Homo sapiens: one gene and its partners. The protein of the gene in region 3 interacts with the protein of the main gene of each other region in a biochemical or structural test. Each region holds a gene or a part of one and is shown on either strand. Other genes may lie near its edges.

Region 1 (3,500 bases), on a different chromosome or scaffold from region 3:
TTGCCACTCAGTATTCGCTGAGAGAAATGAAGGACCTGAAAATTAAAGCCACAGAAAAACTCTCATATTAATAATAATCATGTATTATAATAATAATGTAATAATCATGTATCCACCACAATATCCCTTCATGATCGTAAAAGCTACACACACACATTTTATTAGATTTAATCGTGACAATAACCTCACAAGCTAGGTAGGGTTATTATTCTTATTTAACTGGTGAAGAACTTGGGCTAAATGCAGTGGTTCTCAACCAGGGGCACCTGGAAGTGTGTTGGAGGGTCTGGGTTGCCACACTGACAGGGGAGGCAACATGGGCATTTAGTAGGTGGGAGACGGGGATATTAAATATCCTGCAATGTGCTGGACAAACCCACAGAATTATTCTGCCCAAAAAGCTACCACTTTGAGAAACACTGACAGAAAATAAATGGACAATGCCAAACAGCTACTAATGACCTTAAATATAAATTCAGTAACAAAATTCTGGAAATCACCAAGGACCAGCCAAAAAAAACCAAAACAAAACAGTGAAAGTATATCAAATTCTCACACTAAAATAAGAAGTCTAGGCTACTCTCCCAAAATGATAATACAATAAAAGTTAAAGATAACATAATTTCAAACTCAACATTTCTCTGCCACTTCTTTGCCAAGTTTTTCACTTCGCTTGTAATTGCCTCATTACTTTACTTGCAAAACCTTATCATCTTTAGTTACTCCCTAAGATTTTATACAAACAAGTCAAGCCCTTCTCCAATTCCCATTCTGCCACCCCTGTTTTGGATTCACTTTACTACCTATATGGATTAATAATTTTCTGTGAAGTTCACTTGGTCCATTCTTTTCACCTATACCACTACTCCACTAATCATGCTAAAAAATCATGCTTTCTTCCTGTCAGCATCTCCTATTACATAACTATGATTCCTAACTGAATATCATGCAGATACCTCAGGTTAAAATTGCAGACCCTCAACAGCCTCCTTATTTCTCCTGCTAACTCAATTATTCCAACTAGCCTCATTAGTATTCCTCCAAACTCGCATAATTCCCTTTTCCATGCTTTTGCCCATACTGTTTTCCTTGCCTAGAATAATTTTCCCACTCCTTCCTCCCTGTCATTCTGAATACTTATCTACCAATGTATAGAAATGTTCATCAAATGCAACAAATTTACATGTAACCTGACTTTGTGTAATGTCAGTAGAGCCCCAAATAATTCTCAAATTTCAACTGCTTATTTAGTTCCAGTCCTTTGGTTAGAACTGGAAACTTTTTGAAGGAAGGATCACATTTTCATTTCTTTTGTATTACTCCTCTAGAATACATAGCTACTTGAAATCATAAAATTCTTCCTTGAAGAAATCATTTAATACTGCACCTTCATTTTTATAGTAAGGAAAAAAAAAACTAATTCAAGGACATGTAATTATTTAGTGGAAAGCGAAGAACCAGAATTCAGGCCACAATTTATAATCTAATGTTGTCTGACACTCAAGTGCTTGTTAAATCAACTGTAAGGTAAAAAAATCACTTTGTAAGCCTGTCTCCAGCAACATTACTCTGCATTAAAAGACAATCCATGCCTCATCAAAACAGAGATTGTCTATTTCACTGTATTTTCCACCAGTCAAGAAGACAATGAATGAGGTTCTTCGATAATAATTTGACAATTCATTTTTAAACCTCAAATTTTTACACAAGTTCAGTAAACCTGAAATTCCATTTTTCTGCTCAGTCCTTGAAATATTCATATATATAATGACCTCATTGTGTTTAGAAAAAAAATTTACTTTAAAAATAAGATCAGGGTAACCCATGATTAAAGTATGAAGCAATTTGAAATTTTAGTAGTAAATCAGAAGTCTAGATAAAGACAGTAACATTATTAAAAATACCTTCATTCTTCAATCTCATATTCTCTCCAGAAGCCAAGAAGGTTTAGCATTCAGCATATTTATATCATATGTCATTTGCTATACATTAATGTAGTAAATACATTTAATTTATTTTGCCTCATAATTTGTTATGTATTATTAAAGGATTAAGATTTTTCACTAATCCTTGTCTACAAACATTAGCTATCAGATATATCTTTCTTCTTTGATTTTTTGGTTTTAACCCAGAGTAGATAAATCAATTTAGTAAAGTCTTCTAACATTTAGGAAGATATTCATCAGTCAAATTACATACACATTTGGAATTGTAATAGCCTAATCTTACTTCTGAAAACATCGCCTACTTTTCAATCTGCAAGGAAAATACTTTATCTAGAAGTCTATTTTCTGCTCTAATGATATCTTTTAGGATAACTGTGTTACAGACTACAAGAGTCTAATACAAGAAGAGAATAAAGGATCAAAAGAAACCAATTACAATAGGAAAATATACAAAAGATCCAAGTCAAAATATACACACTTGTAGTAAATCTGCACGTTAACCAAATGTGGAGATTCGGAATTTAGGTGTCCAGTTTCAAAAATAACAAAGAAAGAGACACTAACATATACCTGAAAGCACATATATGGAAAATGAGATAAAATAAAAAGGGCTTAGTCATTTTCTATAAATCAGAACCATAATAAATAAAGCTCATAAGCTCATCTGCTACTTAAACCCAACAGAAGGAATGACTAGGTGGTATTACTGGCAAGCAAGCCAATTTAGCACTCTGGAATGTCCATAGAAATCTCATAAAAAGGCAAAGTAGAAGGTAATTTAGTAAACAGTTTTCCATACTTCATTCTTAGTAAGGAGGTTCTAAAAAAAAACTTTAGAGTATAATTGCAAACTATAATTACAGGTTCACTTTTATTCACATAATATTTAACTATAGAAAGTACACCAAAAGTTATATACAAGTGACAATTTTGGCCACCTGATCCTTGATTTTAATTGGCAATTCACACTAGGCCTAACGCTTTACACCTTTTGTGCCAACTTGCTAATTACACAAATGCATTAGGGTAAAAGTGTTGTCTAAGAATCTGGTTTTATAAAATCAGCCTTGCTGGTGGTACTCACTTATAATTATACTAAATTATAAAAGGGCCAGATTGGATGTTACAAGGAAAAGAGGTTATTTACCAAAAGAATGTCGAGACCACACTGGGAAAACAATAAAACCTAAACTCATTTTACAGAAAAGCAAAATAAGGGAAAAATAGCTGATTTAATTCAACTTTACTTTCCTTCTTCTAGTCCAGTTATGAAATTATCTTGTTGGGAAAAAAAAGAAACTGCTTTCAGTTCCAAAGAATGCATCTAGATCCAACGCTGTACTAGTCTCGTCACTACAGAGTTTTGCTGAACACTCAGGGCCCACACTGACAAAATAACTTCATTCCCGTCTTCACACAACCCTAAACTAGATGGTCTTGATCACTGAGTTCAGGAATAAAAATATCTAACAATTGAAGCCAAAAAACATTCTGGTCATAACTATCTAGATATTTGGGCAAGAGCACTTCAGACACACCGTCTCAGAAATTAAC
Region 2 (4,148 bases), on a different chromosome or scaffold from region 3:
GGCCAGGCTGTTCTCGAACTCCTGACCCTCAGGTGATCCACCCGCCTCGGCCTCCCAAAGTGCTGCAATTACAGGCGTGAGCCACCACACCCGGCCTAGACTCTTAAACATACATACCCTGCTGTAAAATGACTGTCACTGCCTATTCCCCATTGCCTGTGACTGAGTCAGGGAGCCTTCCCTCTGCCTCCCCAGAAGGGCCCAAGAGATCAGCATGGAGACTGCAATTCGCAGGCATGTGTGCCAAATCCAACCCACGGATGGGTTTTGTTTGGCTCTTACCATTTTAGCTGCTAACTATGAAAAAATCTAGAGTTCTCACATAACTCTAGATTTCTGGCTTTTCTTTATTTAAAAAAAAAAAAAAAAAAAAAAAGCCTGACTGCACCCAGCCTGTAGTTTTGCCTGCTCTCAGTTGGCTAGCTGAGAGCAACTAATCAGGAAGCAGTAAAGCCTCCATCTTCAGGTGGCCCCATGGCCAGCCCAGCTTATGCAGATATTTGGGTTTTCAACTCTGGCCTAGTCTAATTTTCTTACTGTAAAGAGAAATATAAACTAAGACCCAGAGAGGAGAAGGGACACACCCAAGGTCACACAGCAGGTAGTACTGGCTGGCACAGGAGCCTACCCTAGCCTCCCGTCTCCATTTTCTCAAAGAGAGAACAGGTCCCATGCCAAGCTCCAGTTGCTCCAAAACCCAGAAGGCTTTGTGCTGGTAACTCCTGCATCTCTCTATGCCGTGGCCCCCACATCCCTGGCTTTGATTAGACTAGAGTGACTTGCTGCTCTGAGAAGTACCGTTTTCCTTTGAATCCTGGCAGAACAGACTGGCCCAGAGAACGTCAAGTCCAAACTCCCTCTCCTCACCAGCTTCACAAAGAGCCGCCCTCTGCTCACCCAAACCCTTGGCTTTTTTCTTCTCCTGTGGCCTTCGATGGTCTCGGTCTCCGACCTCGTCACTCTGCCGGATCTCTTCTGTGTTTGGATCCCCCTTGGAGGGTTCCTTCTCTCCATTGACTACTGGAGTTGGTTCAGGCTCCCCATTCCTTGCCACATAGGTCCGGGACTTCTCTGCATCTTCGGGTTCAGCCGGCTCACCCTGTGCCCCATCCTCGCCGGGGCCCCCCTGGTTATTGTCCACACAGTATGTGCTCAGTATGTCTTCCAGTTGGCGGCTCAGCTCCTCAGAGACATCACGAAGGGCCCCAGACTGAGCCGTTCTGGCTTGAGCCCCTACAGCAGGAGAGGATGAGGGGTAGAGTGAGAAAGAAGACGATTATACCACTGGTTGGGATTTTTCAGGCCCAGCCAAACTCATCAGTTTGAGTTAAATGTTGCCTAACTTTTTTTTTTATGGAAACTGAGAAGCAAGAATGGAGTATCATTCAGCAAATCTAGTTCCTGTCAGAATTTAGATTCGAAACATCTTTTAAATCAAGAAATTATAGTAATCGTTGCCTAACTTCTTTAAGTCTGTTTACTTGTAAAATGACACAACTATTTCTCACTACCACCCGAACATATTTGTTAGATCATAAAAGTATGTAAAGCATCAGCACACAGGGATGGCACGGAGCAACTTCTAGTCCATCTCCTTCCCCCCCACAAAACCATTTCTTGCCATTCAGATCATTCTAGAAATGCCTCAAACAGGAAGGGCAGTTAGCTGCTGGTGGCTGAGGTGTTTCTAACGGGACCTGGATTTCCTGACTGGGTGCCTCGTTTGGCTGCCACCTGACTTAATCCCGTCGGAGCTTCTCTCCAGAACTCTGTTCCTGTGCTTAGAGGGGGCAGCTCCGCCAACTCGCCAGAGCGCAGGGGGGACCGCGGCCCCCAGCACTGTCCTCTCATTCTACATCTCCTCCTCCCGGACAACCTGGCCTCGGCCTGTAAGTCCAGAAGCGAGGCCGACCCCACAGCTCCTCCCCCTGCCCGCTGGCAACGCAGAGCTGGCACACACCCTCCGGCTTCCGAGGAGCCTGGCTGCTGCCGGGACCTTCTGCTTCTACTGCAGGAGCCGCCTGGCTGGGCCGCTCCTGGGCTCCCTCGGGTCCTGCTTCCGGTTGTCCTGGGCTGCTTTTTGGATTGGATTGTTTGGCAGCCCCGTTCTTTTTGTCTTGGTTCTTCATTGTGATGAGCGATGCTGGGTCAGGAGAAGATCCTTTAGAAACAAACACAGTTGCTATTTTCCAGACTTCGAAATTCTTCGCAGCCTGGATCAGAAATCCCCACAGCAGGCGCACAAAGCTTCTTAAAATAAACGGACCGGCAGGCCCGGGCGGAGGGCGCCAACGGCTCTCTGGTCTTGGCGGGTCAGGAGAGCCCGACGTGCCGGGGCAGGCTTTCGGGGCGCAGCTCCCACAGCGGGTGAGGGAAGAGGCCTCTTCTCCCTGGAGCCACTTCCCGGCACAACCGGCCCCCTCGCGGCAGGCCGGGCGCGGGATTGGCTCAGGGCCGGAGACTGACGTGGCGGGACTCCCGGCACCGCCCCCGCCCCTCAGGCCCCACGTGCGCCCCCCGCGCGCGCAGCCACCCACGCCCCGCGCGCCCTCAAGCCGCGAGGCACGCCCGCGCATGCGCATATCCCCAGACAGCCCCCGGCCCACGCGGGGAGTTGGCGTGATTTCCCCACAGGCCGAGAACATCCCGGCCCGCACACTCTCAAATAGTCTCGCCCACCGGCCGCCGCTGCACGTACCTCACCGCCGACGTCCGATGGCTTCCCCACCTCTGGCCTCGCACCGGAAACCCCGAGTAACTGCTGCCGGCCAGCCGCCTGCTCCCGCCTCAGCCAATCAATAGCCGGCGCCGGCGCGGAGCTTGCTGGGAAGGACGAAGCGAGGGCGGCCTCGGAGGCGGGCGCCCCGGCAGGGCGGGGCAGGGAAAAGACTACGCGTCCCTCTTTACGCAGGGGCTAGCCGCAGATCCCAAGGTGCATAAGGGACTGTAGTCCTGGGAGTCCAAAAGGAGCCCGTCATTCTGCACGAGTGCCCATGTCAACCTTGTTTCTATCTCGCAGAAGCTATGCTTCAACTCCCAAAGCCTTGCGCCTGGCTGTTGTTTCCTGCAGGCCTCCATCAAACCTTCCTCCCTGGCCGTGAACAAATGTGACTCCATCCGGGAACTCCGAGGACTCGGGAAGAGGGATAGAGTCCTGGGCTGAGACTCAGGAGACCCATACTCCAGTCCCAACTTCATCACGGATTTGCTGTGTGGCTGGACGTTCTGTTCTCTCTCTGGGCCTCAATGTCCTTCTTCCAAAGGAGGCTTTTAATAACAATAGCAGTTCCTTGAACGCTTACTGTGTGCTTTCCCGCTATCTAATAGCTTGGTTCTCATAACCACTCATAGAAATAACTACTATCTGTTATCCCCATTTTACGGAAAAGGACAGTAAGAGAAAGGTTAGGTAACTTATCCAAGGTCATATCGATAGTGAGTGGTTAAAACAGGGATTCAAAACTGGTAAGTCTGAGACCAGCACCCAGGTAATTACCTGGTCTTTCACCCAGAAGAAACACTACCACAGCAGGTTTCCCTGAGGCAGTCAAGGTAACTTGTGAAAGTAGGTCATATTTTCCCCTCTCCATTACCATTTTGGCAGTCAGTTCCTCAGAAAGGTGCTGAGTTAGGCTTCAGGCATATTCATGAGCCTTTTCTCTACCCCACACTCTACAAAGTCTCACTGGGGTTAAAGTAGAAAAAACCCCCACAGTTCCCTACACATGAGATCACAATTCTGTATCCCCATTGCTTCTGGATAATGAAATCAAACCCAACAATCCTTGTGCCTGGAATTTGAAGCCTAAGAGATTTGACTTTTGCCAAACCCAAAATTTTTTGAGGCCCAGTTCAAAGGTCACTTCAGAGCCTTCCCAGTGCTCTGCAAACCGTACTTGCTCCCTAGGTCTGCAGAGTTGTTACAGCATTAGCAGTGAGGTGTTGAAATTACTATTTACTTATAAGTCAGTTAATTTTGCAAGAACTGTTGGCTAAATAGTCTAGTCCCAGAGCCTCGCATCAGGCTGTGGGTAGAGAAGATTGTAAACTGTTGTGCTAATTGAGCGTTGGTTTAGGGCTGTTAGGATGTTAAATATTTCCCCCAAAGGCTCAGTGAAAGACTTCAGAGCCGTGCATGTTGGATTTCA
Region 3 (3,500 bases):
TCCCGAGTAGCTGGAATTATAGGTTTCCACAACCATGCCTGGCTCCAGTGGTTTTAATTCAGGTGGAGCCCAGAGGTCCCAAGCTCCCTTTCCAGAGTGGGCCCTATAAGGGGAGACCTGCCTACTGTGTCCCAGCCCTGGGCACCACTAAACCCCAGTCCCGAGGTGGCACGGATCAGATCTCTTAGGAATCTCCTGTGAGTCTTTTTTTAAAACAGTTTTTAAATTTAATTTTTATTTTTGTAGAGACGGGGGTCTCACTGTGTTACCCAGGCTGGTCTTGAACTCCTGGCCTCAAGCGATCCTCCTGCCTCAGCCTTCCAAAGCACTGGGATTGTAGGTGTGAGCCACTGCACTTGGCCTCCCTGTCGGTCTTGCCATTGGACCTCGGTCTGCCTCCTTCCAGTCCCCAGACCTGGGCCCAGCAGGCACAAGGGGACAGTCATGTTGCCACTTGGCTTGGGTCCTGCCTTAGGCCTCAGCCACAGTTACAAGCCCCACTCCACTGTCCCAGGACCAGCTGTACAAAAGCCACCCCCATCGTGGGGCAGGGGTAATCATACTTCTGACTTCCCAGCATGCTGCGCACAATTATTACTGTCTGCCTCATACCGCCAGTTGGCCAGGGTCAGCCCACGCTGCTGGCAAGGCCAGGTCTCTCTCTGCAGCCAAGGCAAGGATATCCGGGGTGGCCACCCTGGGGCAGGGACTGAGGTCTCTCAGCCTGGGGCTCAGGGCTTGTTCCCACCTCTTTTATTTTTATTTTTTTATTTTTTGAGAGAGTCTCGCACTGTCACCTAGGCTGGAGTGCAGTGGTGTGATCTTGGCTCACTGCAACCTCCACCTCCTGGGTTCAAGCAATTCTCCTGCCTCAGCCTCCCGAGTAGCTGGGATTACAGGTGCATGCCACCATGCCCAGCTAATTTTTGTATTTTTAGTAGAGACAGGTTTCACTATGTTGGCCAGGCCGGTCTCGAACTCCTGACCTCAGGTGATCCACCCGCCTCGGCCTCCCAAAGTACTGGGATTACAGGCGTGAACCACCACATCTGATCTTGTTCCCACCTCATTTCTGAGTGCCTCACGGGAGTGGCCACTGACTAGCTCAGCACTGACCCCACCTCGGTGCTCTCGCGTCAGGACGGAGGCAGGTGGAGGTTGAGGGGCTGAGAGAACTGATGGGACTCATCAGGCTGGGCCTTAACCCCTCTGGCTCTATTTACTCTTCTGTGAAATGGGGACAGTGACACCTGGCTGCATGGAGGGAGGGCTGAGAAAAAGTGGGGAAGCAGGGCAGGTATGTTTGTTTGATTGATGGATGGACTGATTGATTGATTGAGACAGGGTCTCGCTCTGTCACCCAGGCTGGAGTGCAGTGGCACAATCATAACTCCCTGTAGCCTCAACCTCCCGGGCTCAAGCCATCCTTTCACTTCAGCCTCCCAAGCAGCTGGGACTACAGATGCATCAGATGCATGCCACCACACCCAGCTACTTTTTGATTTTTTTTTTTTTTTTGTAGCGACAGGGTCAAACTATGTTGCCCAGTCTGGTCTCAAACTCTTGGGCTCAAGTGATCTTCCCACCTTGGCTTCCCAAAGTGCTGGGAGTATAGGTGTGAGCCGCCACCATGCCCGGCCTGAGCATGTTCTGTGAGGGGCTCACATCACCCCATCAAAGTGGGGACTCATGGGGAGAGGGGGTAGTTAGGAGCTTTGATAGAGGCGGCTCAGAGGGGCCTCCTCTCTTTAAGATATCGTACCACCTCCCCAGCAGCTAAAATAAATCCTCGTTCCCACTCCCCACCGAGTGCCTGGGGCTGTCACCAGGTGGTACCCCCTCCCCCACCAAGCTCCCTACAGACACAGAAAATCCAGGAGCCGTTTTCACGCTTTTAGACCGTGACAGGCCTAGGAGTTGAGTCAGAGGAGCCCTCCCTAGGGAAACTGAGGCAGAGCACTGCCAGGAGGAGCCCAGTTCCTCCTCCTGGGCAGGCTGCCAGGTTGGGAAGTGGCCCCAGGAGCTCCTGCCATTCAGTGTCCTGCCCTCTCTGCCCTGGTGCTCAGAGGATCAGGGTAGATGACAAAGGGTGGATGGAGAATTATCCAGCTCCTTTTCCGTGGCCAGAGACGAGCGTCACTGCCAGCCCCACCGAACCCCTGTCCTGCCCTCAGAGACCCCTGGCACCTGTCTGGTGCCTCTCTTGACCTCAGCTTGCCCATCTGTGTAATGAGGGCAGATCTTCTCCAGGCATCCGGCCAGCTCTGACCTGCTACCTTCCCAGAAGGCTGAAGGCTGGACCAGGAAGCTTCTCTAACAGAAGGGCTGGGAGGAGAGATGCCCGCATCCTCCTCTGGACCCTCCGTCTATGAGGGTAGGGCTGGGGAAAGGGAGATCAGGGCCAGGGTAGATGGGGGCACGCAGGTCAAGTCTACCCTGGAGGTGGCATTGAGATTGGCCCCAAAGCCAGTCGGGGGGCTGAGGGCCTGACCTCTGAGGCATGGTCAAACCAGCCACAGCTCCAAGCAAAACCTAGAGGGGATGGGCGAAGTGGGCCTTTCCTCCCCACGTCCTTCTACTTCTTCGTTCTTGGGAATTTTCACCCCCAGCTCTGCTCTTTATCCTGCTGCCCTCCCCTGGGATCAGACCCCACTCCCCCACACCTACAACTGGTTCCTGGCCCTACAATCCACCCTCTGCCCCCAACTTCCCCCAGGCACATCCCTTTGCCCGGGATGCTGATTCCATGAAGGTGACATTCCCTTCTTCCTCGATGCCACCTCCTTCCAGAAGCCTCCCTGCCCCCCCAAATCAGTATCTCGCACCTTGTTCTTCCACACGCCATTCACATTCCTATTGGAGCCATGGCTGAAAACTCTCAGGCCCTAAGGGACCTGAAAAGTCCCCCTGGCTTCAGCTGCCAGCCTCAGCTTGCAAACCTCCTGTGACAGTGAGCTCACTAGCTTCCCCAGACAGCTCTGCCCATCTCGGGCAGCCCCAACTGTTAGAGTCCTTCTCTTCCCTGTGGTTTGGTTCCAGGCCATAAAGAACCTGTGGGTGCCCTCTCCCTGGGGTACCCCTGCTATAGATTTGAAGGCGGCATCCACATCCTCCCTAGATTTTTCTTTTTAAGTATTCCTTCCCTTTCAGATCCTTCCCAGGGACCCCAAATTACAGCCCCTGCCCAAGAGTTGTTCCACTGTGCCTCTGTCTCCTGTCATACAGCACACAAACTGAATCTGCTGCTGACTGTGGTCTGGGCAATGCCAAAGATCTGGCCCATCCCCTCCCTCTTTCTATATGATCTACCTCTAGTAATACAGCCAGGAATCAGATAAGTGATCATGTAGCATTTCCTGTCAAGAAAAGCCCCAAGCCCTTCCCAACCACTGTCTGTGGAGTGGATTTGGGGTTCGAGTGAAGGACCTTCTTCCTGTTTCATTTCTTCATTTGTTCTGATGCTTATTTCAGTTTGTGGGATTCTGATGGCTCCTGGCTCT
Region 4 (3,500 bases), on a different chromosome or scaffold from region 3:
AGCGAAGATCGAGGCAGGGCCACCGGGGACGTCCAAGAACATTGGTGATCCCTTCCCAGGAGCCTCTTTGGGCCTCCCAGCCTCCCTGCCTGGCCTCCCTCATTGGCCTCTATGCTAGGTCTGGGAAGGGAGGCCTGGGGAAGAATCTGGGGGGAAGCCTCACAGGATGCCTGCGAGGAGGCTGGCATTTTTATGCCCATCTTGAAGAGGGGAAGACAGAGGCCTCAGCAGGTACAGGAAGTTGCCCAAAGACAGAGCTGAGGGGCCCCATGCCTCCCCCTCCCCTTCCCCAGGAGAGAGAGTGGCAAAGCTCTCCCTCACTCCAGTCAGACCAGGGGAGCAGAGGGAATTTAGGAGGTTGAGACCAGGGTTCCCTGGGCTTTGTGCTGGGGGTGGGGGAGGTGCAGGTTTCAGAGGAACTAGGCCTTACCCTGGAGGGGCTCCCAGCACCTGGGGCAGCAAAGACCCTCAGCCACAGTCAATAGGGGCAGCCTCTGAGGGCCCCAGAAGCTGGGGACAGGACGGCAGGGCCCACTCAGCTCAGGGGCAGAGTTGGGGGGTCACAGATTCACAACTCAAGAGGCAAAGAGGATCAGGGCAAAGTGGGGGGACGCAGGCCAGGGAAGGGCACCCCGAACCACCACGGGGAAGGATAGTACCTAGAGCACCGCTGAGCATGGGCAGGGCCTCCCTGTGCTGCTCTTGGGTTTGACTTCATGGCTCGAGGTGCGCAATGACAAGGGGATCCAGGAGGGACGTGTCAGGCACTGACAGCAGTGGAGGGCGGGCTTCGGGACTCATCTACCCTAGCCTGGGACTTCCCGTTGGAGAGTGGGGTGAAACGGTCGGGCCAGGACATGGATGGTTGACTGGGGTAGCCGCCCAAGCTCCCACGAGGAGAGATGGGCCCTTCCGAGGCCCCAAACTAAAGGTGCTTTTCTGCCCCACAGGTGCCTTCCTGGTCCCCTACCTGCTCTTCATGGTCATTGCTGGGATGCCACTTTTCTACATGGAGCTGGCCCTCGGCCAGTTCAACAGGGAAGGGGCCGCTGGTGTCTGGAAGATCTGCCCCATACTGAAAGGTAATATGCGGGTGCCTCCCTTCACCCTGGCGCAGCGCGGATCATGGTGGTGACGCTGGAGCTTTCAAAGCAAGCCAGCCGCATCATGGGCATCCAGCCCTGCTTTGCTAAGACACAGGCATGGCACACGCCACTTGAACTTGGGTCCCACCTTAAAGATCTGCAGTGACAAGGACTGGATAGTTCATTCCCTTGCTCTAGGTGAGGGTCCTGCAATTCATTTGTGGTGTTACTTTGTCAAGATGCTAAAATGTAGTTAAGATAAAACACATGTCTATCTATGGATCTGCCATCTACCTATCATCCATCGGTCCATCCGTCAATCATCTGTTATCTATCTATCCATTATCTATCTTTATTATTGGTCTTTATATCAATCATTCACCCATCTATCTACCTATCTACCTAATCCATCCATCTATCATCATCATCTATCTGTATCTGTTTCCTGTGGCTGCTGTAACAAATGACACAAACTGGGAGGCTTAAAAGGCACACGTTTATTGTCTCACAGCTCTGGAGGCTGGAAGTCCAAGATCAAGGTGTCTGTAGGGTTGATTTCTTCTGAGGCTGTGAGGAAGCATCTGTTCTAGCCTCTCTCCTTGTCTCAGAGATTGTCTTCTCCCTGTGCCTCTTTATACTTCTTGCTTCTATGCATATCTCTGTAACCAAATTCCCCGTTTTTATGAGGCCAGAAGTCCTGTTGGATTAGGGACACCCTAATGACCTCACTTTAACTTGATCACCTCTGTAAAGACCTTGTCTCTAAATAAAGTCACATTCTGAGGTTTGCGGGGTTAGAACTTCAACAGATGAACTTGGGGGAGGGACACATCCCACAATTCTATCTATCTATTATCTGTCAATCATCTATTCACCCGTCTGTCATCTACCCATTCATCCATCTATTTTCTTTTGATCCATCCACCTATCAATCCATTCATCCACCCATCCAGTCATCCATCCATTCATCTATCTATGGATCTATCATCCATCCATCCATCCATCCATCCATTATCTATTGATCCATCCATCTACCTATCGATCCATCTATCTATCCATCCATCCATTCATTCATCCATTCATCTATCTATGGATCTATCCATCCATCCATCTTCTATCTATTCATCTATCCATTCATCCATCTGTTATCCATTGTTCCATCCATCCATCCATTCATCTATGTATGGATTAATCCATCCATCCACCTATCGACCTATCCACCTATCTACTAGCTATTGATCCATCTAGTTGTCACTGAACCTTTCCGGCTGCTGATGTCCTGCTCTGGCACCATGAAATGGACACACCTCGTGTTGAGTGCAGGTGGCCTGCCCAGCACCAAGCCCTCTCCCAGCATTTCTGACTCCATCTTCATGAGACCCTGGGAAGGGCACACACTAGGTCTCTGTGTTGGAGATGCAGATGCTGAGGACCAGAGGGCCGGGGTCGTTCCCCCTGGTGTCCCCATCAGAGCAGAGTGGGATTTGATCCCAGACGTTTCTGACTCCCCAATCCCTGCACGCAGGTCACACTTGCCCAGTGGGCCAAAGCCACCTCTCAGGGGCTGGTGGTTCAGGGAGGATTCAGGCATTTACTCAGAGGCACCACTCAGAAAATTGGCATTAAGAAAATGACTACTAGAAGGTCAGCCTCTGGATACTCATAGAAGTTCTGGAAAAGCTGTGTGTTTAGAAGACAGCCGAGCCCAGCACGGCCCCAGGACGCATTACCAATGGGTCAGGGGTGGGCCTTCAGAGGCGAGCCGCTGACCTCCCTTAGGAGAGGGAACAGATGGCATTTCACAGCTGCTGAGGTCAGGCTCCAGGAGGAGAAGTCAGTCTCGCAGCCGTGGAAATGCTGAGACTGGACAGGTGTGATGGTTCTTCCCAGGCACGAGACTCATTCGTTCTTAATGGGCTGCTTAGTGAATCTTATGACTTCAGTAATTTCTTCCTGGGCTCCACATTCACTGGACTGCACTGAAATGGAGCTACAAAAAGAGGCCTCCCTCCCCACCCCCACCCCCACCCCCACCCCACACACATCTTCAGAGTGAGAGACAGATGCTTTGGGCATGCACTGGTGCCAGACGACCCCTTGGCGGGATCTGCAGGTAGAAGTCAAACCGTACAAGAATTGCTCAGAACATGCCTCCGTCCCCGTCGTCAGGTCCCTGATATCAGGTCCCCAATGGAAGAATGCAGCAGCCAACGGAAGACCCAGGCCTGTTGTTACAGACAGACAGGGGCGCGTGTCAAATCCGGCGTTGCAGTGAACCCAGGCTAACAGTTCAAGACACACGCGTTACCTGTGTCCTGCCTGGCCCTGGCCAGCGGCACGGACGTGTTTCAGAGAGGAGTGCTGCCTCTGAGCCTGCAGTCGTAAGCGATGCTGAGCTTGCACCGTGGTCCGTGT
Region 5 (3,925 bases), on a different chromosome or scaffold from region 3:
GACTGATTATTTTGTTGTGACCTATCTATTTGTATATTTGATTTGTGCCTGTTTTTCTTTTATTTCTGTTTAGGTACCCTGTTTGCTATAATGAATTATTCCCTCCCACCATTATGCCTTCCGCTTGAGTCTCTTTCAGAACCAGTCATTTAACTTTAGATAGAAAGATTTTTCAGAATTGTGCTAAACTGGATGAAAATCCCTGGGGTTCTTTTTCAGTTCTGTCTAAATCATGCACTCAGGACGATAGTTGTGAAGGCTGTGTGATCATCTCAGAATCTTTCATTGGTTTCAGCATGGGCTATATATTTTTTAAGTTCATTTGTGTCTTTTGAAGAAATTCTACACACCTGAGACTATGCTACAGATCTTTACTGGAAGTCTCCAGGTAACACTTCTTAATATATTTTCCGCATAAGTAAAATACTTTTGTTCTGTAAACAATGGCAAATGTCATCAGAAGAAATTAGGTTCCAGAAAGAACTTCTAAAACAAGCAAATCATTGTATTACTCTTAAATTTTATTAACATCTTCAGTTTGTGCGTCATTTAAAATGAGACATGTGCTTTAAAAAGCATTCTTATACATAAATAGACCAAGGAACAGTTAGGTAATTGATCCCTAAAACATGCACATCAATTTTATTCAGGTGTGTATAAGAAAGGGAAATAAGCTTTAAACCTTTTTCTTTGGATTAAAAACATTTGGAAATTATTCAGGAATGCCAAATGTTTTTCTGGAACAGATGTATTTTCCAATAGGAAATACTGATGCAATTAAGAGGCATTAGTGTTGATAAAGAAGACTGGAAAAACGTTTGTGCTATGCTAGATAAACAAGAAAAGAGTTCAAGTGGGCCTAAGATCTATGTCAAATAAATGAATCAGGTAGCATGAATTGAAAGGTTTGGATAGAAGAACAGGTACCATGAGCCAGATTATGGGACACATATATGTTCAAGGCACATGACTAGGCTAAACAGGTGGCTAGATTCTACAGACTAATTTGTTCATTCATTGAGAAAGTGTAAAATGTAATATAATTTCAATTTAATGGCACTTATTGATAAATAAATGCAATTGGATCTAGGGTAGAAAATGTCTTCCTTTCAGATACACACCAGAAATGCATACTAGATAACAGATGCCAGTAGCGATATGATTACAGTCCAATTTTCTTACACTGCAGTTAAATGGTTGTTAAACTGTTTTGTATTAATTCTATATGTCATACTGTCTATTCTCTTTCAAGTTTCACAAAAGAATTCATCAAAACTAGGCAGATTTAAGAATTTATTTAACCACAAAGAATGCTCAAAACTATTATTCAACAGGAATCAAGCCCAAACCCTGGAGTTGACTGCTGACCGTATTCGGTTTGGGCTTTTCCCAGAATGGAAACACTTTTCCCACACTACCTCCCTTTGCACAGCTAAAATGCTAGCATATCCACTGTGGTTCCCTTCTTTTTCTTTGGCAAGTCAGAGGAATTTACCTCCCCACCCCCTCTACTACATATTCTATTAGCGACACGATTGCCCTAAATATTCACAGAAGAAAAAGGAACACATTTAAAAAACTGCAACTTTCAACAATATTTAAACCTTCATCTTCTCAAATCAACTGCAATGGGAAAACAGAAGATATCAAGCTATCCACTGTATTGTGAATGATCAGCACACTGAACTTTATTCCTGAAAGTCAATATTAGGAGGACAAGGATAATTCTGTGTGCTTCTAATGGGCTAGCAAAATGTTCCCCATCTAACTGAAATAAGAATGTTTCATACTTTACTTGTCTGAGCTCTTAGAAGGAAGCAGCACCAACATCATTACAATTCCCCAAATAACAACTATTATCCATTTATATTGTTTTGAAGCACCTAAAACTTCTCAATAACAAAAGACATTAAGATGAGATGTTAGCAATACTGTCTCTTGAATACTTTTGTGTGCACATACAAAGTTTCTCCATAGTTTTAGTAGATAGCTCATAAGACTAGCGGCGACAGCTTTGAGCAATTAAAAACAAAAATGTTTCTCTAAATAGATGACACTAGTTAACAAACCAAAGAAATAAACAAAAGCCTTTTTAAGGCTACTGCTGCAATGAATGGTTCAATCTGAAGTTCACAGGAATAAACTGGTAGATAAGACAAAGATAAACCTGGAGGCATGGAACAAGATTTTAAAAAGTGAGAAGAGGGTTGAAGAGACTGGCAGATACCATCTGTCAGTATGTGAAAGGCTTGAGTCACATGGATTGCTTTTAACTCCTTGTTCTCTCATATCCTTGGTTAATGGTAACTTCTTCTTTCCTATTTCTTCACACAGCTTGGCCATGTAAATCCACCACAGAGAGGTGAAACAATGATATAGATGAACACCTGGAGGGACGAGGAGAGCAATTTTATTTTCTTGAATCAATCATATTATTCTAAATAATATATATAGGAAAGTAGAGCCTTATTAAGAAATACTTCTGATTCCATTAGAGTAGCAGTTATGTAGTAATGGAACACACTAAACAAGTATTTTCCAAGACAGAAGTGTAGTTAACATTGTCGTTTTTGGTATAACTCACACCCACTTGAACTCTAGCGTTTCCTTCAGTGGGAGAGAAAGCAGTGGGGTTGTTGCTCTTCACTGGTAACTCGGCAGAATCAAGGCTAAATGAGCAACTCATACTGATGTGTCATTAACAAGTCATAAAAAAATCACAAATAACCATAATTCTCCTGAAGTATGGTTTCATTAATTATATTTTTAGGTTTTGCACATGAATTTTATTTTTGATTAATATAAGAATATATTTTAAAAGCCTGAGTAGAAGGCTTTCATCTATATCACTTATGAGCAAGAACACTGCTACGAACTGTTCAGTGGATAATGACACAATAATTACGATGACCAAAACAATGAAAAGCAGATGATGTAAGTAACACTGCAAAAATACTGGTGCTATTACAGATGTGTTTGCTTTTTAATTCTAGATTATAATTTTAAATTATATTATAAAAGTCACTACTTGTTCACATTATTATATCACAAAAAATAGATTTTAAACATTAGGTTCACTGCATTAGTCACTTTATTTTATTTATTTTTTATTTTTTATTTTTGTAGAGATAGGGTGTCACTATGTTGACCAGGCTGGCTTCAAACTCTTGGCCTCAAGCAATCCTCCTGCCTCAGCTTCCCAAAGTGCTGGGATTACAGGCATAAGCCCCTATGCCTGGCTTTATTTTGCTTTAAATTACAACTTTTTGAGATCTTTAAGTGACTGATTTCATTATTTGCAAGCTTGGAAAAGGATGCATTGATGAATTGCATGCCCTTTGCTCCAAAAGTGAGCAAAGCATTTTGCCTTGTAGGGAACTATAAATATTGCCAGGGTTGGGGGGCAGATTACAGCAAATTCTGTTTATTAATGAATAGGTTGAACTTCTGACATCATATTCACACATACACACACATACTCACACATACACATGCCACAAATGTAAAGTTTACCAACTTGATGTAAAGTTGACTATTTGTCACAGCTGTAATATAAGGATTTTTCAAGCTGAAGTACATCTCGTTAGGTGACAACACCTTTTCGCAAAGATTGATATTGCATTTAGAGCTGTGCTCTGCATGTAATAAGTAATCAGTAAATATATTCTGAATTTAACAATTCAGCTGCACAAATCAACCTAAACTCCCAGACCAAATAATAAGTAAGAAGCTAAGCTCAGGAGCCTAAAATGTGATATTAGAAAGAGAAACCTGAGCAAGGAACCATTCAAGGCCATGACAATTACTTCCAGTATAAAATCTACAGATCTATGACTGCTCTTCTCTTTTAGATAAATCCAGCTGTCTAAGGCAGAGGACCCTCAAGCTGTGGTAGAGGAGAAGCAGGGTCAGAGTTATCTGCTTG
Region 6 (4,292 bases), on a different chromosome or scaffold from region 3:
AAAATCCAGATTTCTGACTTCTCTTAGAAAGATCTAATATTGCTGGGCCCACATCCCTATGGGGTAACAACCAGCTGGAGATGAATGGTGTTCACCCCTTTAGACAGGGTGTGTGTTCTGTTTTTTATCACACTCACCACCACCCCCTTAAGTCTCTTAGTTAAGTTGCTTTACTCATTTATGTTACCTGCTCTGCCCCAGTAGTCATTTGAGCTTATGCCTTCTATTGTGAGACAGTTTTTAATGAGATGCCCAGGCATAGTTGACATGAGAACTAAATGACCAGAGTTGGAACTTTGATTCATGAATATCATGTAGGATGGGTTACCACTGGGTTGCATAGTGGGGGTGAAAAGCCAGTTATATTTTCATGTCCTCCCTCTTCTGGGGGGAAGAGAGAAAGCTGATGCCGCCTGGAGACAGGATTCCTGATTCAAGTCCCCTTACAGCGCTTCCCATCTCGCCTCCCTGTGCCCTCCAAAAAATAAACTCCTCCAGGCTTGTTTTTTCCATACCTTTTATTGAACTCTGCAGACTTCATTAAGGGACCATTTGCTTAGAAATTCTTAAACATTTGGACATATTTTACAAGACAAGACAGCAGCTGGAGGTCACACAAAGATCACAATTTCATCTCACCACATGCATAAAAAGACACTGGGATTTGTGTGTGTGTGTGTGTGTGTGTGTGTGCGTGTGTGTTGCGCACATGCGCAATGCTTATTTTCACCTTTACAGGAAGGACTAGAGACATTAACTGACGAGAGATGAATAGGACCCACGAATGCACCCCCGAGAAAAGAGTGGCTGAGGACATTGGTCATTTATGGCTAATGTGATTGGCTTGGCCCCTGTCAAGGGTGAGGTGATCAGAATGGCTTTACTGGCAGAAAAGCCCCAACCTCACACGACGGGTTCCTGGGAGAGACAGGGTCTTAGCTGATGGGATCTGGGGGCATACTATCATGACGGCTTTGGGGCTCAGAAAAAAAGATCTTCGGCTCTAAAAGCTGGAGGGCAGGCTGGCCTTAATATCCAGCTGGACTCCCATGGCTCAGGGAATGCAATCCAGTTTCCAGATGTTGGCTCCTATGTTTCTGCCCCAGGAAGTCCCAGACCAAAGGAAGTCCCAACTTCGAACCCTTGGCTTAGTCCATTGGAAAACCACTTGGTGGTCCCCCCCATGGGTCGTGTGTGAGCTAAAATAGAACATGAGGCTGAGAAATGCAGGGTAGGGGAAGAGGAAGGAGGGCAGAGCTGCTCTGTGGGCCCCCAGGAAGTGTGGCTCTGAGAGGGCTGTGGCCCTTATCAGCTTGGGGCCTACAAGCATCAAATTGAGATGTCATCTTGAGTCAAAGAAAGATGACCTTGATGGGGCAGTTATGGGTTTCAGTGGGAGAGGGGCTCCTCATTTTTCTTCTCTTCACAGTTAGGTAGGGATTCATTAACTCCCCCATTCACTCACACATTCACGCATCCAGTCATCCACTCAGAGGCCAACCAGTCACACATTCACTCACTCACAAAAACACAGGTTGGATGACCATCATGTGCCAGCGGCATAGGTTGGGGATAACCCTGAGTTCCTGGTGCAGAAAATAAGATTCTCAGTTTTTGACCTTGGATTGAGAAGGACCTATGAAATCAAGATAGACCTGGAGAATCCTCCCTGTCCCCACCCACTCAGGCACACTCAGCTCAACCAAGAGGGAGGCCCAAACCCCAGTGAAGCCCAAGGGGCAGAGCCAAGCTGTGGATATGTCAGAGTTTCTTGGGCATCTTCTCTGCTGCCTGCCTCTTTCCAATCTTGGTTCAGATCAGGGAAGCAGGAAGTATGGGAAGATCCCTGCATGGCCCCTTGAGGGCATCCTAATGGGACGGAATTGGGAGTTTCTTATATTTTCATGAAATATCCTATTTTTGTCTCCTTGTGTTGTTGCAACTTGAGTGATTCTGCAGGGCAGAGCCTCCAGTGAGGAGTTGGGAGGAATCTTGAAAACTGGTTTTTATTTTATTTTGGTTTCAGAGGAAGGCGGCTGCTCATTCTACCCATCCAAACATATCATCCTGCCCAACCTCATACTAAAACAACCAAAGACAAACCAGTCTTCGGTTCACCCTGAGGTTGAAGTCTCACTTTCTCCCAATCCACCATACATAAACCCTCTCTTGTCAAATGCTTTCCTTAGAGAATGCAGTATGCAGGATGATTTGGGATGGAGGCCACAGCTGCAGGAGAGTGGCATTCTGCTTGGAGGCAGCCAAGAGCCTGGTTTTGCTGTGAAACTGGATTAAAAGCTGCCTTTCTCTTTTGACCCTTCTGGATTTTTTTCATTGACGGGGACTTTCAAAGGTCTTGAGTGGGGTCTCTTATTTGATTTACCAAAAAAACAAGCCCTTTTGGAATGGAGCCATTTGCTATTGCCTGGGAAGTTGTTCATTGTGGGGATGGCTAGTGGGGAACAGATATCATTGCATCTTTTATACAGAAAGCCCCAGGCTCATGAGGGCACAGGAGCTGGGCGGAGGGGCTGAAGCACCATAAGACAGCCAGCCAGGGATGGGGGACAGCGTGGATTGCTCCTTGGCTGGCCTGGGGAAGGGTAGCATGAGTCTCATCCCAATGTGGTGCCTGGTAGGCCACTGGGGATGGGTTGGATTGGTGACTGACAGTCATTAAAATGTTCCAAGACGGAGCCGGAAGGAAGCAGACTTGTCTCTTGGACACCCCCTCTGAGAGCTCCAAAGCCCAGAAGTTGCATTCCTGCTAATTGTGCTGCATGCCTTTGCCTCAGTGGCTTGAGCTTATATCCAGAGTGTTGAAACCACCTACACACACACACACACACACACACACACACACACACACACACACTCCAAGAAACAAAGAGGAATTTCTGTGGTTGTTCAGCCCAGTTTCCATGCAATGCTAGGGCCCCTCTGCAATGCCCATTTTTTACACCATCTAGCCAGCCTCTCTTTAAACACCTGTGATATAAGGGAGCTCACTGTCCACCATGGCATTGAGCTCCATGGTCAGACAACCCAGCCTGTTAGGAGGGCTTCCTTAATTTGAGCTGCAATTGACCCCATCCCTTTCATACAATAGAAATTTTCGGAGAACTTGCATACAGCCAGCTGGCAGCTAAGTTTTTTTCTTCAGGTGCACTGCCCCACTCCACCCCATCCTGGCCAGCCTTTAGGAGATCTTTTCAGGATCTTTGGAGGGAGGAACAGAGAATTAGGTTTATAAGTGAAGATGAGGGTTCCCTCGATTAACAGAGCCCTACCCAAATTCAAGTTGGCATTTGGGGTAGTTCAGGAGAAATTCTAGGTTAAGATAAAATCAGGGAGAGTGGATGGAAATGCAAACTATATAACCTCTTTCTTGATGAAAACAGCAACAGCCATAGGCAACAGTGTTTGCTTATCTGGGCATCAAACCCAGGAAACTACTGGCAGACTTTTTTTTGTTTTGTTTTTTTGCTTTTGTGCAGAGGAAAAAAAAATCTTGTCTGTTTTATTTGACTCTGGTTCAAACCAGACTATCAGAGGTTTTCGGGGTGGGAGAACTCTGATCAGGGTCATAGTCCAGAATAATAAAATTCATATTTGAGTTGGCTTCCTCTTGGGAGTTATCTGATGGGATGGCTCACTGCCATCTGAGGGTCCCAGTTTGGCTCAAATTTCTGATTCTAGGCAGAGCCCCAAGCCCTGCAGCTGACAGTGAGGTGGGTGGTATACCAAAACCTAAACGAATGCAAGTTGGAGATTATCTGGGCTTTCTTCATCTTCCTGCATGAGTTGACGGATGGAGAATCACTTTCTGCTGAAGATCCTGCCTAGTGAGATGTCCTCCGCCCACCCAGGACTGAAAACTGCCTCTGGAATTAATTATCAGGACAGTCCAAAAACTCCCCCAGGCGTGGATAGGTGGAAGCTGGAAAACTGCCCCTGTCCTTGCCACACACCTCCTGCTCTATGGAGCCAGGCAGCTGGCAAGGGAAGGGGAGATGAGCTAGCAGATTCGGGGACATCTCTTCTCAGGGTTTGGCTGCAAGGGTGTCTGGCCACTGTTTTTTGGTGAAGCTGTTAGAAATGGATTGAAATGGACTGGGTGCAGTGGTGGCTCACACCTGTAATCCTAGCACTGGGAGGCCGAGGCAGGCAGATCACCTGAGGTCAGGAGTTCAAGACCAGCCTGGCCAACATGGAGAAACTCTGCCTCTACTAAAAATACAAAAATTAGCTGGGCGTGATGGTGCGCTCTTGTAATCCCAGTTACTCAGGAG
Region 7 (4,289 bases), on a different chromosome or scaffold from region 3:
AATGGTGAATCCATTGCCTTGAGTGGCATGTTGTCATTTACTGATATAAGAAATACTGGAGGAGGAACAAATTTAAGAGAAAAGATGGTAGGTTTAACTTTGGATGTGTTGAATTTGAGGTGTCTGCAGGACATTCAAGTGGAGATGTCAAGAACACAGAACTCAATAAAGCAGTCTGGGTAGAGTTATAGAATTAGAGTTGTGACCATATATATGGTAATTAAAGCCAAGTGAGTGAAAAAGATTATTTGGGGGAGGGAGTATATGTATCCTAGCCCTGAGAATGTCTGACTTTCAGAGGTCAGATAGCAGAAGAGTGGCCTACAAAGGTCACTGAGGAGAGGGCAAAGGAGTAGGAGGAAAAGCAAAAGAGTAAAATGTCATAGATGCCATAGAAAGTTTCAAGGACGAGGAAATGGTTAACGGTGTTAAATGTAGGGGAGAAGTCAAGCAAAATAAGGACCAAAAATACCTTACTTATTTATGGATTTATTGACACTGAGGGTCATTGTTTGTGTATCTCATTGAGAAGTTTCAGTGGGGGAAGGAAGCCAGACTGCTGAGAGCTAAGAAATGAATGAGAAGTAAGGGAATAAAAATTGCAATTTCACCTGTGAAGTACATTTTCAATACATTTGCCCATAAAGAGGACCTGAAGAGGGACCTCCTGTGTAGGGAGGTTCTTTTTTTAAGATGGTAGATACTTGAGCATGTTTAATTGCTGATGTGAAATGAGGGGGAGAGGGATGGGAGAGGCAGGGAGAGGAATCTGCAATTACTGGGTAGGTATAAACATTTTCAAGTCTATTGATACATATTGCTCACGTGCTTTCTAAAAGGGTTTTTAACCAACATATGCTGCTATCAGCAATTAAGACAGCTTGTTTGGTGGCTACTTTGTCATCATTAAGTGTTATTAAAAAATAAAAAATATCTTTGCCAAAGAATCTCATTATTGTTCTAATTTGCTTTTCTTTGATTACTAGTGAGTTGGATATTTTAACCAGTTGTGTCCTTGAGTGTGTATGTATGAATTTAGTCTACGCTTTTGCCCAAAACGTTTCTATTTTAGACAGACATTTATTTGCCATAAAAGGCCACAAGTCAAAGGATCAGAATGGTATTATATTTTATTTACTCAAATTAGATAGTTCATACTCTTTTATCTTCTTAGAAGTGTGAGACAATTTGACAACTTTTGACTCAGCTGAACGAAAGAGACAGGTGATTTCACCGTCTAAGAGAGTGACCAACAGATGGAAGTAAGTGGGTGAGGAGGCACGTCTAGTGTTAGACCCCTATCCTCAGTCCCCAGGCTCCCATTCCTAACCTGGAAGGACATTCCTCTTGTGTCTCAAGGCTTTGGGTCCCAGAGCTCCCTTTTGGGCTGAGTGGCCCCCTGCTAAGGAGCCCGGGGCGCTGTGCGGCCCCTTTAAGAGTCCAGCTCCTCCCCGCTCCAGGGAAAGTTGCAGCTTTTTCCGCCTCCCGGGAGGGTGAGAAGGGCCGGCTGCCGGAGCTGGGTTGCGATCTTCCCGGAGCCGGAGACCCTCCCTTGAAACCGGCACTGGGACTTCTCGATCTCTGGAGGCACCTGTTGCAAGTGACAGGTAGGTCAACAGCCAGCGGCCGGCCCCTCGCCCTCGGTCCGGTGCTCCTTCTGGACCCCCAGCTCCTTTTCGCTGCTGAAGCGCCCCCACCCCCATCTCGGGGTCGTGCGTCTTCCCTACCCGCTCTCTGGTCCCCCAATTTTTCCTTCTCCCTAGCTGACCGCGTCTCCCCTCTCCCCGTCCGCCTCTCCCGACCGCATCCCCAGGCTTGGACTCCCGTCTGCTTGGGCGGTCCCTCCCGGCCACTTTTCTTTCTCCAGGGCTTCTTCTGGCCCCTTCCCTGACCCACCCAGCACTAATGCGGTCTGTGCCCCTCTGGGAGCCGCCTCCCCTCTCCTCTTCGGCTCCCCTCGCGGGGAGTGCCCGGGCTTTTTCCCGCCAGCCCGAGCTGGTGCCCCTCCCGAGAGCTGGCCCTGGGGGCGGGGGCGGGGCCGAGCTCCTAGCGGGAACTGCGCCCTCCAAGGCGTCCAGTCACCTTTTCGTGGGTTCCTCTCACAGCGCTCGGCCGTCGAGCGGGGTCGCTAACCCGCACTCTCTTCGGACCTACGACATCGCGGCTTCTCTGGCGTTGGCCAGTCAGCCACAGGTAAAGGCTGGAGGCTGGTTGGCTGGAGTCCTGCCTCAGTGGGCTCCCTCTGCGCTTGGGGCTGGGGACCTGGCTGTGTGCTGTGGAGCTGCTTTATATTGCCGCTCTTCAAGCAGGCTGTGAGAGATCTGGTACTGGAGGAGGGTCCCCGAGATCTCAGAAGGGGCACAGAATGCTTCTGTCTCCTGTGTTGGTTTGTAATGGGGCAGAAAAAGGTGTTCCTCCAACCCTTAACATTGAATGAGGTGGGATTTGGGGTGGTGAAATCATTTGGTTAGAATTCTGGTGGCTTGAAAAGTGGTGACTTTCTAATCAAGCTTTTCTTCCCCCAGTACCCTGCTTCTTCAGGATTAGAGGACGTAAAATTCCAGAGTACTGTGCTTGGCAGGGTTGACCCTAGACCTTGTATATTTGTGGCAAAAATGAGTCTTCTGTACATCCTGGACCTCCTATATTTAACTGGCTTATTTTCTGCTCTTTAAGCTCCCCACCCCCACCTCTCATAAATCTATTAATATTGAGGTATTAATGACTTAAGACTTTTGTCGCTGTGGGAACAATGTTTAATGCAGAGACGTGGCCTTGATGAAGTTTTCTGCGTTTTTGGTTGTTTGGTTTTTAGCACCCTAGTAGAAAAGCACCACCAACTTGGCTTGTGAGGCCCTTTTTGGGCAGAGGATGAACATTTCTGGTAACACAATTTCAGGTGTCTCACTCTTGGTCAGAGCAGTGAAATGGAGCTGGAGGCCTGTTCTGGGGTAATTGATCTGTGAGTATATGTAGCATTCTGGCTCTCTGAGCTTGTTAGGCTCTGGTTGTTAGGCTCCATTGAGCTGGACACTGTGATAAGTTCTTTACATAAAAATGCAATCCTCACAATAACTCTATACAGTAGGTGCTACAGTTATAACCATATTATGATGAAAAAGAGACTGAGAAGTTAAGTGCCTTGCCCTCAAAATCTCGGAGGCAGAGCTTGTGTTCCTATCCTGTCACACCACCTCTGTTGTCTTAGATGTTGGGAACACTGAATAGCTCATGGATGAGGACTAAGTGATTAAAAAATTGTCTTCCAAGCCCAAGTATATGTTTTTCTCCTTGCTTCCACCTTAGATGCACTGCCGAGACTATGGACTACTTACCTTACTGATGTCTTACCCACTTCATTTCCAACATGGGCCAGTTGCCACGTTACCACTATAAGTACACATCCCTGAGTGTAATTAGATGAATGAAATCTCCCGGGTTTTCAGCTCTGTGGTAATTGTCCTGAAGTTAGGGGAGGGTAACCCTGGATTCTAGGGATGTGTGCCTGACTCAACTTCTTCCTCTCCTGCTGGCTAGGGGAGAAATGAGGGAGTGGTAAGTGATATGGATTTCCTGACAGCCATACCAGAGAGCCTGAGGGTGATCGTGTGCTAGTTTTGTCATGGGATGGATGGAGTACCATAGACAAGGATAGGAAGAAAATGTCCTCCCTATTCCCATCTCTGGGACTTTGCTCAAACTGTTCCTTTTTTTCTTCCTAAAAAGCTAACTTTCCTCCCTCATTCCCCCTCCCCTGACATTAATTCCTATCCATCCCTCAAGATTGAGTTCTAAAGTCACCTCCTTTGGAACGGCCTTACTGAACACATACTTCTTCCCCCAAGCAGAATTGCCAGTTATCCTGTGTCCTAAAGCACTTTGTTTACACCTCAGTAAAGCCCTTAACACTGCTTAGTTGTTTTTCCACCTGGAAGGCTGTAAGTTCTCTAAGGGCAAGGTCTGGATCTCGGAGCTCCCTTTGTCTTAAATATAAGATGTTGGCAAATATTTGTGCCAGTAACCGGACATACCATGCCATTCCTTCAAGGGGCTGAGGTGTAGTGATGGTGGGGTTGAGGTACAGAAGACACCTTCCTGAGGCACTTGAAATACCACAGCTAGGAATTTGCCCTGACCACCCTATTTAAACGTGTAATCCCTTCCCTGAACATTCCATATGCCCTTTCCCTACCTTATTACATTGTTCTTGCTTATTGTCTGCCCTCCCACTCCCTCACCCACCATAACATAAACACCCTGTGGGCAGGGATTGCTGTCTGTTGTATTCA

The links.
Region 1: the proteins of STX1A (region 3) and STXBP5 form a complex in vitro, tested with the Homo sapiens proteins (2 studies listed by BioGRID).
Region 2: the proteins of STX1A (region 3) and TXLNA form a complex in vitro, tested with the Homo sapiens proteins (one study listed by BioGRID).
Region 4: the proteins of STX1A (region 3) and SLC6A3 form a complex in vitro, tested with the Homo sapiens proteins (one study listed by BioGRID).
Region 5: the proteins of STX1A (region 3) and VAMP7 form a complex in vitro, tested with the Homo sapiens proteins (one study listed by BioGRID).
Region 6: the proteins of STX1A (region 3) and KCNB1 form a complex in vitro, tested with the Homo sapiens proteins (one study listed by BioGRID).
Region 7: the proteins of STX1A (region 3) and SYTL4 form a complex in vitro, tested with the Homo sapiens proteins (one study listed by BioGRID).

Annotation. Positions count from the first base shown.
Region 1 is NC_000006.12:147,207,417-147,210,916, reverse strand, and holds part of STXBP5 (syntaxin-binding protein 5), read right to left. Parts: intron 1-3,500. UniProt on the Homo sapiens protein: Plays a regulatory role in calcium-dependent exocytosis and neurotransmitter release. Inhibits membrane fusion between transport vesicles and the plasma membrane.
Region 2 is NC_000001.11:32,178,327-32,182,474, reverse strand, and holds the start of TXLNA (alpha-taxilin), read right to left. Parts: upstream 2,801-4,148; 5' UTR 2,699-2,800; intron 2,411-2,698; exon of another isoform or gene 2,162-2,410; 5' UTR 2,130-2,161; coding exon 1,961-2,129; intron 1,234-1,960; coding exon 898-1,233; coding exon of another isoform or gene 799-897; intron 1-798. UniProt on the Homo sapiens protein: May be involved in intracellular vesicle traffic and potentially in calcium-dependent exocytosis in neuroendocrine cells.
Region 3 is NC_000007.14:73,709,670-73,713,169, forward strand, and holds part of STX1A (syntaxin-1A), read right to left. Parts: intron 1,729-3,500; exon of another isoform or gene 1,648-1,728; intron 1-1,647. UniProt on the Homo sapiens protein: Plays an essential role in hormone and neurotransmitter calcium-dependent exocytosis and endocytosis.
Region 4 is NC_000005.10:1,438,941-1,442,440, reverse strand, and holds part of SLC6A3 (sodium-dependent dopamine transporter), read left to right. Parts: intron 1-950; coding exon 951-1,082; intron 1,083-3,500. UniProt on the Homo sapiens protein: Mediates sodium- and chloride-dependent transport of dopamine. Also mediates sodium- and chloride-dependent transport of norepinephrine (also known as noradrenaline). Regulator of light-dependent retinal hyaloid vessel regression, downstream of OPN5 signaling.
Region 5 is NC_000023.11:155,940,345-155,944,269, reverse strand, and holds the end of VAMP7 (vesicle-associated membrane protein 7), read right to left. Parts: intron 2,388-3,925; coding exon 2,319-2,387; coding exon of another isoform or gene 2,131-2,318; 3' UTR 501-2,130; downstream 1-500. UniProt on the Homo sapiens protein: Involved in the targeting and/or fusion of transport vesicles to their target membrane during transport of proteins from the early endosome to the lysosome. Required for heterotypic fusion of late endosomes with lysosomes and homotypic lysosomal fusion.
Region 6 is NC_000020.11:49,363,377-49,367,668, forward strand, and holds the end of KCNB1 (potassium voltage-gated channel subfamily B member 1), read right to left. Parts: 3' UTR 501-4,292; downstream 1-500. UniProt on the Homo sapiens protein: Voltage-gated potassium channel that mediates transmembrane potassium transport in excitable membranes, primarily in the brain, but also in the pancreas and cardiovascular system.
Region 7 is NC_000023.11:100,729,322-100,733,610, reverse strand, and holds the start of SYTL4 (synaptotagmin-like protein 4), read left to right. Parts: upstream 1-1,489; 5' UTR 1,490-1,607; intron 1,608-2,076; exon of another isoform or gene 2,077-2,105; 5' UTR 2,106-2,193; intron 2,194-4,289. UniProt on the Homo sapiens protein: Modulates exocytosis of dense-core granules and secretion of hormones in the pancreas and the pituitary. Interacts with vesicles containing negatively charged phospholipids in a Ca(2+)-independent manner.